Linked DNA regions of Homo sapiens: region 2 is linked to region 1. A link means that fine-mapping ties the variant in region 1 to the expression of a gene that starts in the linked region. Tissue or cell type: whole blood. Region 1 holds a variant in brackets; the other region holds the start of a gene. All regions are shown on one strand. Distances are from middle to middle.

Region 1 (8,000 bases):
TTTTTGGAAGTACTGCTGCTGCAACTGAAAATACATGTATGATGTTTACGGTCACTTACTAAGCTTGAGATATAAGGCCAGCCCTAATGAGCCCAAGGATCTTCTCCTGGCTACTTCTGACTGCAAATAAAACAATCACCTCCAGGAAGATGGTGGTACTCTGGATATGAACAAGGGTTTAAAACTGGTAGGCTCTCTGTGGTTGTGGATAACAAGAGGGCGAAATGATTAGCCACTTTTATGTTTAATTGTGCTTGAAGGGAAGAAAGAATATGCACCAAATACCATTCAAACAGGTTAAACATTAGCCAATTTTACTACTGACTACATTTAAATAGATCAGGTTTAAATATAACAATTCTTTTTAATTAGAGAAAAAAATTCATTTTTGAACTGAAATAGCTCTTATTCTAATATTAAGTTTATGATACAGTGTCCTCTGAAATCAGCAATGAAAGGAAGTATTATTCAATAAACAGTACAATAGTATTGGGGTGGGGGTGGAAGGGACAATGATGTTAGACCCCTACCTCACATCAGACATTGAAATAAATACCAACTAAATGTAGGAAAGACACAGATTAACCCCTAATAGAAAAACAGGTACACACAATTTTCAAAAGAAACAGAAACAGCCAATGGATATATAAAAATCCAACTTCGCTAGTTATCAAATACTGCAAATTAGAACAACATACCATTTTCTGTCTGTTAAGTTGGCAAATACATTTCAAAATAGGCACTCCCATACTCTGCCAAGGGGAACATTAACTGTTTACATCCTTTCTGAAAGGCAATTTGGCAAATATATATCTATATAATATATATAGATAGATATTTTAAGCCCTAAAAATTATTTTTACCCTCTGACCTAATAAATTTGCTTCTGAACTTTTCATAAGATCAAAATATGCAAAAAGGTATATGTTCAAAGATGTTTGTTTAGAACAACTCTAAATGCACAAAGCAAATAACTAAATTATGATGCTTCTCAAAGATAGAGTACCATAGGGCTACTAAAAATCATGTTATAGAAGAATATTTAAGGTTATAAAGATTCATTACATTATCTAAAAGAGCAAAAGCATATTATAAATTACAGGTATAGTAAAACCAGAAGGATCATGTTCCCCTAAATATACAAGTGGCTATCTCTGGAAGGTGGGGATCATATGATTTATTTGTGAGCCATTCTGTACTTTGTATAATTAACATATATACTTTAGTAGTTGAAAAAAATGGCCAGGCATGGAGGCTCATGCCTGTAATCCCAGCACTTTGGGAGGCCTAGGCAGGCAGATCGCTTGAGCTCACAAGATTGAGACCAGCCTGGGGAACACAGGGAGATTCTGTCTCTACAAAAATAATAAAAAATATGAGCTGGGCATGGTGGCACACGCCTATAGTCCCAGCTACTTGGAAGGCTGGAAAGAGGGAGGATCACTTGAGCCCAGGAGTTAGGAACCAGCCTGGGCAACATAGGGAGACCCTATCTCTACAGAAAAAATAAATAAATAAATAAATAAAAATTAGACGAGTGTGGTCCCAGCTACTCAGGAGGCTGAGGTGGGAAAATCACTTGAGTCTGGGAAGTCAAGGCTGCAGTAAGCTGTGATAGCACCACTGCACTCCAATCTGGGTGGCAGGGTAAGACTTCACTCAAACAAACAAACAACAAGAATAGCAAACCCCTGCAGCCATCCAGATAACAGTGGATGGCCGTGGCTGTGTGGACTAGCGTGTCAGAAGTAGGGATGAAACACAGAAGATATTATTTTGGAGGTATAACCAACAAGATTTGTTGACAGATGGGATTGGGGAACAGTGATGAGGAAAAGAAATAATGCAGGGAGAATTCCTAGGTTTTCTGAATTGATCAATGGGTATTGAAGTAGAAAAAACAAGTAGAGAAACGGACTTGAGACAGAGTCAAGAGTTTCTGTCTCAGAAATGGTAAGTTTGTGATTTTGTTAGATTTCTGTGGTAGGAAGAAATTTGGCCCCCAAGACCTTTGCTCCCTAGTATCATACCATGAATATTTTCTACTACATGGTAAAAAGGACTTTGCAGATGTAATTAAGGTTACTCATCATCAACTGCAAGATAGAAAAATCCTAAATCATCTGGTTGGGTCCACTGTAATCACATTAATCCTTTAGAGGCTGAAGAGGAAGGCAGGAGGGGAAGGCAGAGAGATTTGAAGCACAAGATGTATTTGGTGCACTGTGGTAGGCTTTAAAATAGAGCAGGCCACAAGCCAAGAAATGCAGCAGCCTCTAGGAACTGACAGTGGCCCCCAGCCAACTGCCAGCAAGGACATGGGACATCAGTCCAATAGCTGCATGGAATTCTGCCAACAATGAGAATGAGCCAGGAAGCCTCCAGGTAAAAGCCCAGGTCAGCTGACATTTTGACTTCATTTTAACGTCATGTGACATCATTTTTACTCTAGTCTTGTGAGAACCTAAGCAGAGAATACAGCTCAGTAATGCTGTGTCCATAGACTTCTGATCCTCAGAAACTCTAAGATAATGGGTATTGTTTTAAACCACTGAGTTTGTAGTAATTTGTCATGGCAATGATAAAAAACTAATTCAATGGCCAGGCATGGTGGCTCACACCTGTAATCCTAACACTTTGGGAGGCTGAGGCGGGCAGATCACCTGAGGTCGGGAGTTCAAGACCAGCCTGACCAACATGGAGAAACCCTGTCTCTACTAAAAATAAAAATCAGCCAGGTGGTGGCACATGCTTGTAATGCCAGCTACTCGGAAGGCTGAGGCAGGGGAGTCTCTTGAACCCAGGAAGCAGAGGTTGTGGTGAGCCGAGATTGCGCCATTGCACTCCAGTCTGGGCAACGAGAGCAAAACTCCATCTCAAAAAACAAAAAACAAAAAAACTAATTCAATATCCCAGCAGAGATGCTAGGTAGACATTTAGATAAATGAGTCTGGAGTTCATGAGAAGTTAAAGTTAGAGCTAAAAATCTGAGTGTCAAATGCATGGTAGTCAAAAGCTGAATGTGATATCCCTAGGACAAAACTGGAAAAAGAGAAAGGTTTAGAAACACAGCAGGGGAAGTCAATAGGAGACTGAGACTCTCTCCTATTGACAGAGATCTCAATATCCCACTGAGAGATCTCACAAAGTGAAGTTTAAGAAAGAGGAAGTGGTCAACTGTGATGAAAGTTGTTGAAAGGTTGAGTAAGATGGAGTCAGAAGAGTAAACATTAGATTTGGCAATGTGGGAATTGTTGGTAACCTGGACAAGTACAGTTTCGGTGTCATGGCAGGGCAGTTGCCAAGTGGAGCAGGTAGAGAGAACACAGTGGAGACAACCCTTTCAAGAGGTTTTGCTCATGAGAGCAGAAAAATAGGACTGTGGCTGGAGGGGCATGTGGGATTAGGAATAGCTGGAAAGGGTGGATGGAAAATGCTAAGGTATGCTTTTATGTTAATGGCAATGATGCATTAGAGACAGAGAAACTGATGATGTACAGCAACAAGCATATAGTTAGGGAACACAAGAAGGCATGGGATTCAAAGAAAAAGGCAAGGTTTCACTTAAGATGGAGCAGGGCCACCACAAGCATTGTAATACAATATAGGGTAGAAACTATGGGTGCAGAAAAGGACGCCCTCTGCATTTGATGG[G/T]AGAATTAGAGGAAGTCCTGGCTAACATGGTGAAACCCCGTCTCTACTAAAAATACAAAAAATTAGCCGGGCGCGGTGGCAGGCACCTGTAGTCCCAGCTACTCGGGAGGCTGAGGCAGGGGAATGGCATGAACCCAGGAGGCGGAGCTTGCAGTGAGCCGAGATAGTGCCACTGCACTCCAGCCTGGGCCACAGAGCGAGACTCTGTCTCAAAAAAAAAAAAAAAAAAAAAAAAAGAATTAGAGGAAGTTCCCTTTCAATAACTTATTTTCTCACTGAAGCACGAAGCAAGGTCATCAGATGAGACTGAGGTGTTGTAGTTTTAAGGAGAGAGGACAAGTTATGAAATAGTCATTTTGGAGAGGGGAAGAATGAACTTACTATGGAAATGTCACAGGACAGTCCGTTGTCCTTTGGAGAACTGTAGTCTGTTTAAGAGTAATAAATTACAAACTTTTCTCTTGCCATGTACAACTGCTTTGGTTGCAGAAGAGGTGAAGAGTTGGGCTTTAACAAAAGTTACCAAGGGTATTAAAACAAACGTTATTAAAACAAAACATTTTTCCAACTGTTTTATTTCTGCTATTGCCAAATACAGCTTATTCACTCACAATCTGCTGTTTGAAGGATAACCTCAGAAGGCTATCTCACTATTCTTGATAAATTAAAATGTTCTCAGCATGTTCCCTTTGATGTCCCTCTTTCAGCAGTGAGCAGAAAGGGGAAGAAACTGCTGGCAGTCCTTTAGAGTACTATCATAATGCCAGGTGAAGCCACCTCAGCACCATCTTCTGGGATCACTGTCTTCCACACGTGATAAGCTTTGAAACCCTGACCCTGTGATATCGTTTGGATATTTGTCTCTGCCGAACTCTGGTGTTGAAATGTAATCCACAATTTTGGAGATGGAGTCTGGCGGAAGGTGTTTGGGTTGATGCACTCCTTGCGATAGTGAGTTCTCAAGAGATCTGGTTGTTTAAAAGTGTGTGGCACCTCCTTCCCCTCACCCCTTGCCATGTGAGACACCTGCTCCCCCTTCTTCTGCCAGGATTAAAAGTTCCCTGAGGCCCCACCTAGAAACTGAGAAGATAATGGCACGATGTTTCCTGTACAACCTGCAAAATCATGGGCCAATTCAACCTCTCTTCTTTATGAAATTACTCAGTCTCAGGTATTTCTTTATAGCAACGCAAAAACAACCTAACACACCTTGGGAGCTTTTCTCTTTAGATCCCTGTTGAGAACATGATTCCCCTCCATGCATGCATACACACATTCACTACATTCAAATTATGCACACGCATGTGGGTGTACATATTTATGTTAGGCATATATATACACACACACACACGTATATACAGCAGATCTATTATTAACTGCTGTAGGTTTCTTATCTTTTTTTTATAATAGGATTTAAATTCAACAAGCTCCAGCAAGAAAATCCAGGCTTAAAAATTTGCATTTAAAAAAAAATAGAAAGAGCTTAGCAAGGCCCTTAAGGGAATTAAAAGCTCTCCCTAACATCTGAAGAGATACCTATGCTTTCCCTGTAAAGCATCCTCCAACTCCCTATGTAACTAGTTATATTAAAAACTAAAAGGTGCTTCCTAGACCAACATGCATGCTAGCATGTGAAGCCTCAAGAACAGTTTTTAAAATGAATAGAAAAAAGGGTCAGGTGAGTTGACCCCATAGCATCAGTCCATCCACATAAACCAAGGGTAAAATTCCTAACAACCTAATTTCACTATTCTGGTTGCTTTTGTTTGCTTGTTTTTTGAGAGACAGTCTCACTCTGTCACCCAGGCTAGAGTACAATGGAATGATCATAGTTCACTGCAGCCTCGAACTCCTGGGCTCAGGGGATCCTGTGCCCTTAGGCTCTCACATAGCTGGGACTACAGGTGTGCACTACCATGCCTGGTTAATTTTTGTATTTGTTGTAGAGATGGGATCTCACTATGTTGCCCAGGCTGGTCTCAAACTCCTGGGCCAAGCAGCCCTCCTGTCTTGGTCTCCCAAAGTGCAGGATTACAAGTGTGAGCCACTGTGCCCAGCGCTTTTTTTTTTTTTTAATCTAGTTTATCAGTATGTTCCTGCCTAGCCCAGAGGCATAACATGAAAAGATTGATTAAGTTTTGCAAAGTTGTCTTGAGTGGTTTAAAGAAAATTCTTCTATATTGCCACCATTATATAATACCCATTGTAATTTAAAAATAAGTTGTACACCCCAATGATATCATGCTTCTTAAAATAAAGAAGCCTGTTTTAGCCACATTATTCATAAAATCATTCCTTTCACGGTAGTTCCTCTTTCAGTTGTGCATAATTTTGCCTTACCTTTCCATTTGTGCACATCATTTTCTCAGAATATCTTTATCTTTTATATTACTCCTTTCTTTTTTAAACATGGACAGCTACACAGTCATTCTGTCCGTCCTCTAGTCTTATTAAAAAGCACATTACACTCCGGAGGCTGAGGCAGGAGAATCGCTTGAACCCGGGAGGCGGAGTTTGCAGTGAGCCGAGTTTGAGCCACTGCACTCCAGCCTGTAGACAGAGCGAGACTCCCTCTCAAAAAAAAAAAAAAGCACATTACTTGATCCTTAAGTGTCAATAATGACCCCTATTACAGGGACAACGACCACAGGAGAGGGCAAAAGAACAGATGCCCTTTTTCATGGTGATATACACCCTGAGGGATATGTACGTATTAGCACATGACAGAAGTAGCCGATGAGGATTCTCCTCTCTGGGTTTTCAGAGGGAGCATGGCCCTGTCAACACTTAGATTTCAGACTCCTAGCCTCCCGAACTGCAAGAAAATACATTTCTATTGTTTTGAGCCACCGGTTTGTGCTGTTTTGATACAGCAGCCCTAGGAAATGGATGTGGATTTCCCCCGTGTTTGTGGGCAGGGGCACCTATGATTTGCTCCTGACCAAAGAAATATGGCAAAGATGACGGGATGTCACTCCCATTATTACATTACATTTGTAAGACTCAGTCTTGCCAGCACACTCATCCTATTGTCAGCTGTGAAGAAGCACGCTGCTATGAGTCCTACAGCCACAAGGAACTGAATTCTGCCAGCACGTGGGCTGGGAAGTGGTTCTTTCTCAATGGCAGCCTTGAGAGACCCTAAGCAGGGGACCCAGTTAAGTTGTGCATAAATTTCTGATGCACAGAAATTGTGAGATAATGCATGTGTACTGTTTTAAGCTGCTACATTTACAGTCATTTGTTACACAGCGCAGAAAACTAATACAGTTGGACAGGAGCATAACAGACCAGCTTTGCAAACTCTCTGGGCCTAGAAAATGTGGACAGCTGACTCTGATGGATGCTTTCCCAGATGCTTCTGAAGCTGCCAGCACTGGGGACTCTCTTACAATTCCCTTTTATCAGGCAGTTTCTTATAATTCCTTCCTTGGCTCCTTAGGTATCCAGTGTTTACCTCCTGGATCTTGCTGCTAAGGTCTCTCTGTCCTTCCAGGGGCCTTACTGGCCAGGACCCAGGCCAACCCCATGCTGGCACCCTCCTCCACGAGGCCCACATCCGGTTACCAGTCAACACTCAAGTATCCTTTGGCCCACCCAACTGGAGGAATGCAGACAATTCCCAATGTGGCACACTCTCCTCAGCCCATCCCTCTGCTTCAGATCTGCTGTGCAACAGTCCAAGGCCTACATGCTGCGTCTCTTCAACAGCAGGATACCATGTCAAGCTCACCCAGAGTCCTGTTGAAGCCCACTCTCTTTTCACTGAGGGTGGGTGTTATTGCAGGCAATAGTTCACTCCTAAGGACCTTTTTTTTTTCTTTCCGAGATGGAGTCTTGCTCTGTCGCCCAGGCTGGAGTGCAGTGGCGCGATCTCGGCTCGCTGCAAGCTCTGCCTCCGGAGTTCACACCATTCTCCAGCCTCAGCCTCCCGCGTAGCTGGGACTACAGGCCCCCATCACCACGCCTGGCTAATTTTTGTAATTTTTTTAGTAGAGACGGGGTTTCACCATGTTAGCCAGGACGGTCTTGATCTCCTGACCTCGTGATCCGCCCACCTCGGCCTCCCAAAGTGCTGGGATTACAGGCATGAGCCACCACGCCCAGCCCCAAGGACCTCTTTACTAATCTTCTCCATATTATGTAAACTTTTCTATCCTTAATCTGGTACAAGAGCTGAAGACTCATGAAATCAATCACTGAGCACTTCCTTCATAAATTCTGTGCATGGGGGTTTGTCTCACAATCACTTTGGTCTGTGATACCTATTGTATTGGCAATTCCATCAGAATGGAGGCAGGAAAAGCACCATTTCAACACCCTGTTACATGTAGTATTCACAAGTC
Region 2 (9,219 bases), 81 kb after region 1:
CCTCATCTTAAAAAGAATCCTTAAAGGGCACCCATTTTTCTTTAGTTAACAGAGTAAAAAAGACTGCACCAATATGGTTAAATTCCCAGGACCCTCGGTTCTTTGTGGATGAATTAAATGGCTGGTATCATTAGTTACAAAAATGTCTTGACCTTGACGGAAGTTAGCTTGAGAAATAAAGTTTACATTTGTTATTTTTATCTTTTAATTCCATTTTCCCATGAACTTTTTGAAATCCCCTCATATACACACCCAGTAGTGGGACTGCCGGATTTTTAGTTTTTTGAGGAACCTCCATACTGTTTTCTATAATGGCTATACTAATTTACATTACCACCAATACTATATAAGAATTCCCTTTCTCCATATCCTCACCAGCATTTGATAATTTTTGTCCTTTTGAAAATAGCCATTTTAACTGAGGTGACATGATATCTCACTGTGGTTTTAATTTGCATTTCCCTGATAATTAGTGACCTTGAGTAATTTTTCATATACCTGTTGGCCATTTGTATATCTTCTTTTGAGAAATGTCTACTCAGATCCTTGCCCATTTTTAATTGGATTATCTGGGGGTATTTGCTGTTGAGTTGTTGAATTCCTCATATATTCTGGATATTAGTCCCTTCTTGGATGAAGAGTTTGCAAATATTTTCTCCATTCTATAGGTTGCCTCTTCACTCTGTTGATTGTTTCTTTTGCTGTGCAGAAGCTATTCAGCTTGATATAGTCCCATTTGTCTATTTTTGGGTTTGTTCCCTGTGCTTTTAAAGTCTTACTCATAAAATCTTTGCCTAGACCAATATCCTGAAGCATTTCCCCTATGTTTTCTTCTGGTAGTTTTACAGTTTTGGGTCTTGCACTTAAGCCTTTAATCCATTTTAAGTTGATCTGTGGATATGGCAAGAGAGAAGGGCCTTATTTCATTCTGCACATGGATATCCAGTTTTCTCAACACCATTTATTGAAGAGACTGTCCTTTCCCCAGTATACATTCTTAGCACCTGCACCACACCTTATGCCTAGTGTTCCGTTATTGGAACGCTAAGCTTGTGGGAGTTATTTATATCCTACTGCTCAAGGTCATCGCAAAGGTCTGATTTTTCACACAAAAAAATTTGCAACCTCTGGCATAAATGGGTTAAGTAACTGCCTTAAATTATCTTTGCCTCATTTTTTTTCTTTACTAAATAATATATATAGTAGTAGAATTAACAGCATGATCTCTTAGAGGTCTTATGAGGATTAAATAATAAAATATATGTAGAATATTTTGAGCTATTATCCTCATTATTACAACCTACTACAGTTTTTGTTTTTTTAATTCATAGCATTTATCCAGTTGCCTGTAATTTTATGCCTTTTTCTTATTTATTTATACTTTGAGCTTATTAGTAAAAACAAAACAAAACAAAACAAAACCTTTCTGCTTATATCTTTAACCAAAAAAAAAAAATTATTTAACAAAACCGAGACTCAGTGATTCAATGCAGCAGACATTTTCAAGGGTGGTTGCCCAGCCCCAACCATTTGCTGAAACAAAGAGGATCCTGATTCCACAGCTAAATCATTCCTGCCAGACCCCCCCTGGCCATGAATGATTTGTCCACTCAGGGGATGATAACCAATCATAGTTGAGTCGATCAGATTTTTTCTCCCAGCACCTACACTGTTTTTGGCAGTACTCTGAGAGGGTTCTCAAACCTGTTATCTCTTTCCTGCTTTTCCAGAAGCTGGATACCATGCAATGGCTCCCCTAGCATCCCTCTGATAAATTTACCTTTTGTCTCTAAGCTGGCCAGAGTTAGTTTCCATTACTTAGGCAGTTGAGAGGGGTCACAGCTGAGTTCTGGAACACACCTCTATCTCTTTGTGTTAGAGCTCCTTAATCCACATCTATTGAGAGACTACTGTTTGCAAGGCATGACCAGATATGTGCTGTGAGGATCAGCAAGGTTTTGACAGGAAAAGAGGGGGTGTGGCATTAAGAGAATAGAGAACAGCAGAAAAACACAGGGCAGATATAGGGAACTGAAAGCAATACAGTTTTACTGCAGAATAAGGCATATGAAGGCACATGGTTGATCCTCAATAAATGTTTCATTAATTGATATTAAATTAGATGTAAAACTAGATAGACAAGTTGAGGACAAATAATACATGGCTTTGAATGCCAACTAAGGGATTCAGAGTTTACTTGCTTCAGAATTGGGACCACTGAAGATTTCTGAGCAGAAGAGCCCTATAATATGAATTGTGCTTTCTGAACACTAATATCTCACGCAGTCCTCATGAGTGATCAGCTTTTTAATGGGCTGAAATTTGTGTTTTATTTACGGCCAGATGCGGTGGCTCATGCCTGTAATCCCAACACTTTGGGAGGCTGAAGCCAGGAGTTTTAGACCAGCCTGGCCAACATGGAGAATCCCTGTCTTTTATTAAAAACACAAGAATTAGCCGGTCATGGTGTCACATTCCTGTAATCCTAGCTACTTGGGAGGCTGGGGTGCGAGAACTTCTTGAACCTGGGAAGCAGAGGTTGCAGTGAGTGAGCCGAGATAGCACCACTGCACTCCGGCCTGGGTGACAGAGCAAGACTCTGTCTCAAAGGGAAAAAAAAAAAAGTTATTTATGTTTCTAATGAGGGAAATTTAGCAGCATATTTTACAGAAAATAGGTTTCATTTCAATGACAAATGATACTTCTTTATGGGTCTCATTAGAGAACTGAAAATACTTGCAAATACAGTATATTTGATAATGTCATTTTCTGCTCTAGATCTAATCAAAGTTGTCAGCAAAATTAATTTAAGGTCCACAATTCTCTACTCATGTTAACCTGAGGGAGAGGTTATTGTGCTATTAGGACTACGTTATAACTGAGAAACTGTTAAATGCCTTCTCATACTCCTCTAATGGAGACAACCCAAGTTTCAGAGAAACAGTTTATAAAGCACTCTATAACATAGTGAAGAGCATTATGAAAATATCTGGCATATGCAATCTTGTTAGCATGAAATGGGTAATATTAAACACAGTCCCTAATATCACTGTGGCACCCCAATTTAGAAGAGCTATACTGTACCAACTTTGCTTTCCACCCACAGAAAGGACCAAGTATGAAGTTATATAAACACCATTCTCCCTTAATTGAGGAACTGGTAATCGAAATACAAACTGATCTGCTTATTCACTATTTACATGGCCATTCAAAGTAATAAAATTTTAAAAGTAAATGTTATGTTGAAAAAAGTCAAGTGAAAAGCAAGATGTTATCCAAACAAATTATCTGTCTTTAAACAAAGTAAGTTTTCCTTTCCTTTCAAATAAGAAAAAAAGAGAACCAAAAAGTTCACCAATAGAAGTGTAATTCACATGAATCGCAGTGATGGTATACCATGGAATAGGAAAAAATAAGTTACAAGTCATAGTTCAAATTTTTTTCATACCCCTGCCTGTACTGTAACTTGTGAACTCTAGAACTTTAACAGACTTTCTGAAAGCTGAAAAGAATCCAGTAACTCGTACAGAGAACCTCATGAACAGTTCCTGAGGTACCACAAGCACCTGTTTCCAGCGTGTTCCAGCCATGGCTTGTAAGTGGACCTGCAAATGCTGCAATGTCCAGGGTACCAAAATAGGGGAAAGGCGCCCAGGCACAGCTCAAGGGAGCTAGCTTACCCCAAGGCTGTGTTTGACAGGGATTTGGGAACTGGAGAGGAAGGAGGAGGAGGCAGAGTACAGCCTCTGTCCTACGGCCCCACACCCACCGGCAGACATCCATCCTCCCGCCTGCGCCCCGCCGCGAGGGGGTACTCACAGCTCTAGTCTCATACAGAACCAGCTTCTGGACCGAGCTGATGATGGGGGCGGCGGCCGTGGGCATGGCGGCGGCAAATGGGGGCCCCACAACAGGGCACGAGCCTCCGGACCGCCCCAGGAGACTCGGCGAGAAAACCCCTCAGGCCCTGGACATCAAGTCCAGCCAGGAACAACACCCATTAGGCACTAAACCTATAGATGATCAGGTGTTTCCGGATCCCTGCGCCCCGCCTCCAGGCAAGCCCCGCCCCTCACGTCGGGAGCGGGGCTGGAGGACGTATCATAGAGAGGTCGGGTAGAGGCTCCCGGGACCTGCGTGCTGCCGAGAGAGGAAGCGAAGGGCACCATCTTTGGTAAGGATTGGAGGAAAACATGGGCGGAGAAAAAGTCGACGGATTAATTGAGTCTATTTATCTCCTCCCTCTCTTTGGAAAAAAGCGGAAGGTTTGGGATTGGGTAGCTTCTTTTGAAAAGGGTTCTCCGAGTTGCAGGATAGATCCTTGTGTTTTCCCTGCCTGCTGCGGCCCATTTTCCTGGAAGCCGGCCCTCTGACGGTCCTTCACTGAGTGTCAGTTTTCCCCTCACCTCTAATCCATGTTGTACCTACGCTGTGTGGCCCAAGAAATTGTTTTAAAATCACCTAAAGCTGGAAAGTGTGGCTTTGCCACACGTTTGTGCGTGAGGCTAGCCACTTGAAGTTGTCGACAGAGACTAGCGCAGTGTGGCGGAGCCGCGCTTGAAATGAGGTTTCTTCATTTCATGTGTGCGACATAAATGGGCATGCGCGTACCCTCTCTTCCATAGTTGTGAAAATGAGTGTATTATAATTATAAATGCCAAATTAGGTACAAAAGTGACTATTTCGAATTGGAAAAGAAATGACAAAGAACTACAGCCCCGCCTCTCGAGGCCCCGCCCCACCAAGCAGCAGGTGCGTGGCGGCCAGAGGTCTCCCCGGCAACCGCCCGACAGCCCCGCGGAGTCCCTGGAGGCAGTTGCTTCCCTGAGGAGGGTCCGGCTGCGGCCAGGTAAGGAGCCTTCCGGCGGCCCGCTGGGTCGTGGTCCGCCCTGGAGGCATCTTGGTATCTGTTGCACGGAACCCCGCCTCCTGCGGGGACCCCCAGACCAGCTTCTTTTCTTGCAAAACGGTCTCTTTGTAAATCCACTTTTTAAAACCACGTCTCCTTTCAACGACTGAAGTATTTATTCCACAAATATTTACTGAACACCTACTGCAAGAGTATAAGATGTAGGGGAGAGGCAGCTATCCTATCTTAGGCGGCAATTCTAGGTTTCCCAGGAAACCTCTAAACCTCAGAAACCTCTGCTAGAGGGCTTCTCAACTGCTAAGTGTAAGGAAACTTTAAAAAAAAATTATAGAATTATAGCATACCCAGATAACATTCATGTAATACCAAAGATCATATTGTAAATTAAAATTTGAGAAATTACAAAAATTGTAAAGAAATACTTAAGTCTATGTTATTTTGCGCTTCTTTCCCCCTGTAGTTTGGTACTCCTTTTATTAAGAACTAGAAGGATGGCCGTGTCCGTTCTGGCATTTTGGACTTGGATCTTTTAACTGGGAAAAATAGTTAGCTGTGTTCTGTTTCATAATGAAACCAACTCTTCTGAATATTAGTTAAATGTTTGCACAGTGTTTTTATCTAGGATAGCAACTCTTAAAATACCTGAAGGATTCTAGTTTTCAATTATTATAGTTTAGCACTTCCATTTTAACTTTATCTTAGTTTATTTCACCCGGAATCAGATCCTAAGACAAAACTTTGAAGGCAGGTTGTTTATATGAGACGTAATCCCAGGAAACAGCAGCAGGGAGGGGAAGAAAACTAATAAAGGAAATATTACCAGAGAAATTTCTCTGTGGGCTGAATTCACTAGGGAATACTGGGAGGCATGTCTCAGTTATCCCCTCTTGAGGGGCAAGGAAGCTGGAGTATTTATTCGCCAACTTCCATCAGTTATTGGATGAAGCCTGATAGGGCAGAACATTGATGCCCTAGAACTTCCAGTCTACCCTGTGTTCAGGGAGAGTAGGTTCTGGCAGCCAGAGAAAGCCCTTAGGCAAAAAGTCGCACATGCTAACATTTTGGAAGTTGGGCTGGTCGTGCATAGAAAAGGTGTATGTCAAGTGGATATGGGGGAGGCACTAATAGCAGCTGCTACATTCCACCCTTTGCAGCACTCGTATCCATTCTTCCTCCACATCAAGTTCACACCATGCCACCCTAATTCTTTAAGGTAGTGGCTAGTCTCAATTTTTAAAAGAAAAGGACTTACAAAAAAAAAGATTAATGGGACAAGCTGCAGAATCCACTACTGCAATTAATCTGAGGTCTCTAATTGATCATCTCCTTCCTCTAACATCATTCTAGATTTTCCTTACTCTTGGCCAACACTTCTGCTGGTCTGTGTTTGCCCAGTAGGATAACAAGCTTTCATCCCTGAGGAGCATAAGCCCTTGGTTACTGTGTCATTGTAAGGTTTTGGTTGCTGCAATTACCCATTCACTGGACATGAAAGCATCAAGAGCTGTCTCAGAGAATCCCCTGAGTTCAAGAAATGCATCCCCTATCCCACTTATCTAGCAGTTTATGGCCATACCACCCTGAGCACCCCCAATCTCATCCAATCACATAGCAGCAACCCTATCTCCATCTGCCAGTGCAATAACTCCTTATGAGCTTTTGGAGTCAAAAATGACCAGGTGGCAGCAGTAGTTTTAAGATTTAATGAAACCTTTACTGGGTCCCCTGATAGAACCATCTCTCCCCTCCACCAGACCCAGGACCTCTTGTCCAGAAGTGAGGTGCAAATTTCCCAAGTCAATCACTGAGAGTATTAGTGAGAGGGGTCACTCCTACTTCCAGCCCTTGATTCAAAGCATGTTCCTCATCTTGAAGTACATTGTCTCAATCCCACACAATCCCAAGCTAGCGCCTTAGCTGTGCCTTTAAGAGACCATTCCAACATTCTGTCAAACCAGTAGCTTCTAGGTAAAGTGGTATTGTAAAAAGGGTCCTCTGATCCAAGGCAATGGTATATGAGATCTCATGAAGATAAATGAGACATACTCTAAACCTTTAGGTAGTGGTGCTGGCCAAGGCACTGCAGGTAGGAAAAACAAGCCCATATTAGGAGCATTTGTCACTTGCCCCTTTAAAGGTGAAGGGGTCCTGTGTAATCAATTTGTCACTGAATGAATGTTTTGTCTCCTAAAGGGGTTGTACCATATTGAGGGCTCAATATGAACAGGTCTCAATTTGTAATCAATTTGTCACTGAATGAATGTTTTGTCTCCTAAAGGGGTTGTACCGTATTGAGGGCTTAATATGAACAGGTCTCTGCCATGAACAGGTAGAACATTCAGCAGCAGTAGTGTAGCTAAACCAGCCTGGTGAAAGGAGGCCTTGATATGAGCCCATGCCTATCCTTCATCACCTTCATCCCTGCCACCATGCCTACTTCATTTACAAACCCATTATGCAAGCATTGAGGTGACCAGAAGCAAAGATTGGCTCATGTCTACTGGATAAATTATCCTGTCCACCTGGTTTTTTCAGTGCCTCTTCTGAGGTGGATGCTTTCTGAGATACAAATATCTATGTATTTTACATCCACTTACATTAGTTTTCTATGCTGCATAGCAAATTACTGCAAATTTAGCAGCTTAAAACAACACACATTTGTGATCGCACGGTTTCCATGGCCAGGAGCCCTGGCATCACTCACCTGGGTCCTCTGCTCAGGGTTTTACAAGGCTGCAATCTGGTGTTGGCTGAGATGTGCTTCCATCTGGAGACTTGACTAGGGAAGAATCCACTCCCAAGCTGATTCACATTGTTGGCAAGCATCATCGTTTTGTGGTTGTAGGACTGAGGTCACTGTTTTCTTACCAGCTGTTGGCAGGGGCTGCACTCACATGCCACCCACTCTTCCTCATCACGTGGTCCTCTCACAACATGGCAGCTTACTTCTTCCAAGCCAACAGAAAGTCTCCCTCCAGTCCCCTAAAATGGAGTCTTATACCATGTAGCATATTCATGAGACAGACATTCTGTCACCTTTGCTCTATTTAGAAGCAAGTTACAGACCCCACTCCCACTCAAAGGAAGAGGATTATGCAAGGGTGTGACTCACTGGAGGTCAGATTAGGGTGTGTTTGCTACACCACCCTCATAGGCCCAATCACATGCTTCTTCCCCAGAACTCTTTTTCTCTTACCTTCTGATCTTGTACCTTCTAGGCCCTTGATGAAACCAATCCGCATTGTCCTCCAAATTGAGGGCCTAGGAATACTGCTTAAAGCTCTGCCTGCCAGGAAGATTTCCCCTAATCACCATTTTTCAGGGCCACTTGTGAGAGGAACTCATGTCTGGAAGCATTACATTTACAGCTTTTACCAGTATATTGTGATTCATCCATGAATTTTGTTTTCATTTTCTGTCAGCTCTTCTTAGGGAATTCCACATGAGGTGTGAGCTGAAAGAGACATTGGTGCATGAGACAGGTGACATGGGCATCTGGGCTGCTTATTTTTGAAATTTATTTGTGCCCTGAAGACCTGTTTGAGCCTGATCCCATTGTTCCATTTTTATCATTTAATGGGTTGCTGCAGTGCCTGCCTGACTTTAGGACTTGACTTGTCTGACATAACCAGCTCATAGTGGATACTTCCAGTTGCATAGTCACTTGATATCCCATGACCAGGCATTCATTCTCTACCAGAGCCCAAGAGCATGCCAAGAGCTGTTTTTTGAATGGGGAATTATTCTCTGCTGCAGACAGCAAGGATCTACAGAGAGAGGCTCCTGTTGTGGCTTTCCTAAGACTCCAGAAGGTATCCTTACATACCACAGCATTGTGGGACCTTTAGTATTGTGGGATCTAGCCAGATGTATGGCCCAGGAAGCAAAGCCTCTGGTACTACAACCTAAAACTACAGAGCTCTTTCTTGCTGTGTGCCCCACTCAAAAATGACAGCTTTCCATGTCACCCACTAAATGGGTCAAAACAGTATTCTTTAGTGCGCTTTATGCTCTCTTTGAAAACTAAAGAGGCCTGCAAAATACTGTGCCTCTTTTTTAGAGGTTGAAGGTACAAGGTACAGTAACTCATCCTTTACCTTGGACAGAATGTCCCAGACCACTGGCCTTTTAAAACTTTACCAAAGTAATAAGACCTTCAAACTTTGTAGGTTTATCTCTCACTTTATACTTACTGCTCATGTGTCTTTATAAGGGGATCCGGGACACTTGCAACTTCCTGCTCACTAGGTCTGATATTGTCAATATTGTGGATCAAGACCCCTTTATACTATATTGTCTCAAACAGCAGGAGAGTCCTTGGGTAAGACTGGATGTTCACTGTCACTGCT

Evidence for each region. PIP is the estimated chance that this variant, and not a neighbour inherited with it, causes the effect.
Region 2: it holds the start of FIG4, and the variant in region 1 is fine-mapped to the expression of FIG4 in whole blood (TOPMed, PIP 0.99).

The regions. Positions count from the first base shown.
Region 1 is chr6:109,767,352-109,775,351 of GRCh38, reverse strand. The region is part of intron 15 of FIG4 (FIG4 phosphoinositide 5-phosphatase); the gene reads right to left. Among named protein-coding and RNA genes, the nearest start is that of FIG4, 80 kb to the right of the region's middle. The variant G/T (reference allele first, on the strand shown) is at 3,655.
Region 2 is chr6:109,686,102-109,695,320 of GRCh38, reverse strand. FIG4 (FIG4 phosphoinositide 5-phosphatase) reads right to left here and starts at 4,025. Exons shown (of 23, transcript NM_014845.6): 1 at 3,820-4,025. The coding sequence starts at 3,885. AK9 (adenylate kinase 9) reads left to right here and starts at 4,119. Exons shown (of 41, transcript NM_001145128.3): 1 at 4,119-4,174. RefSeq lists an enhancer at 4,072-4,541 and a silencer at 8,108-8,308.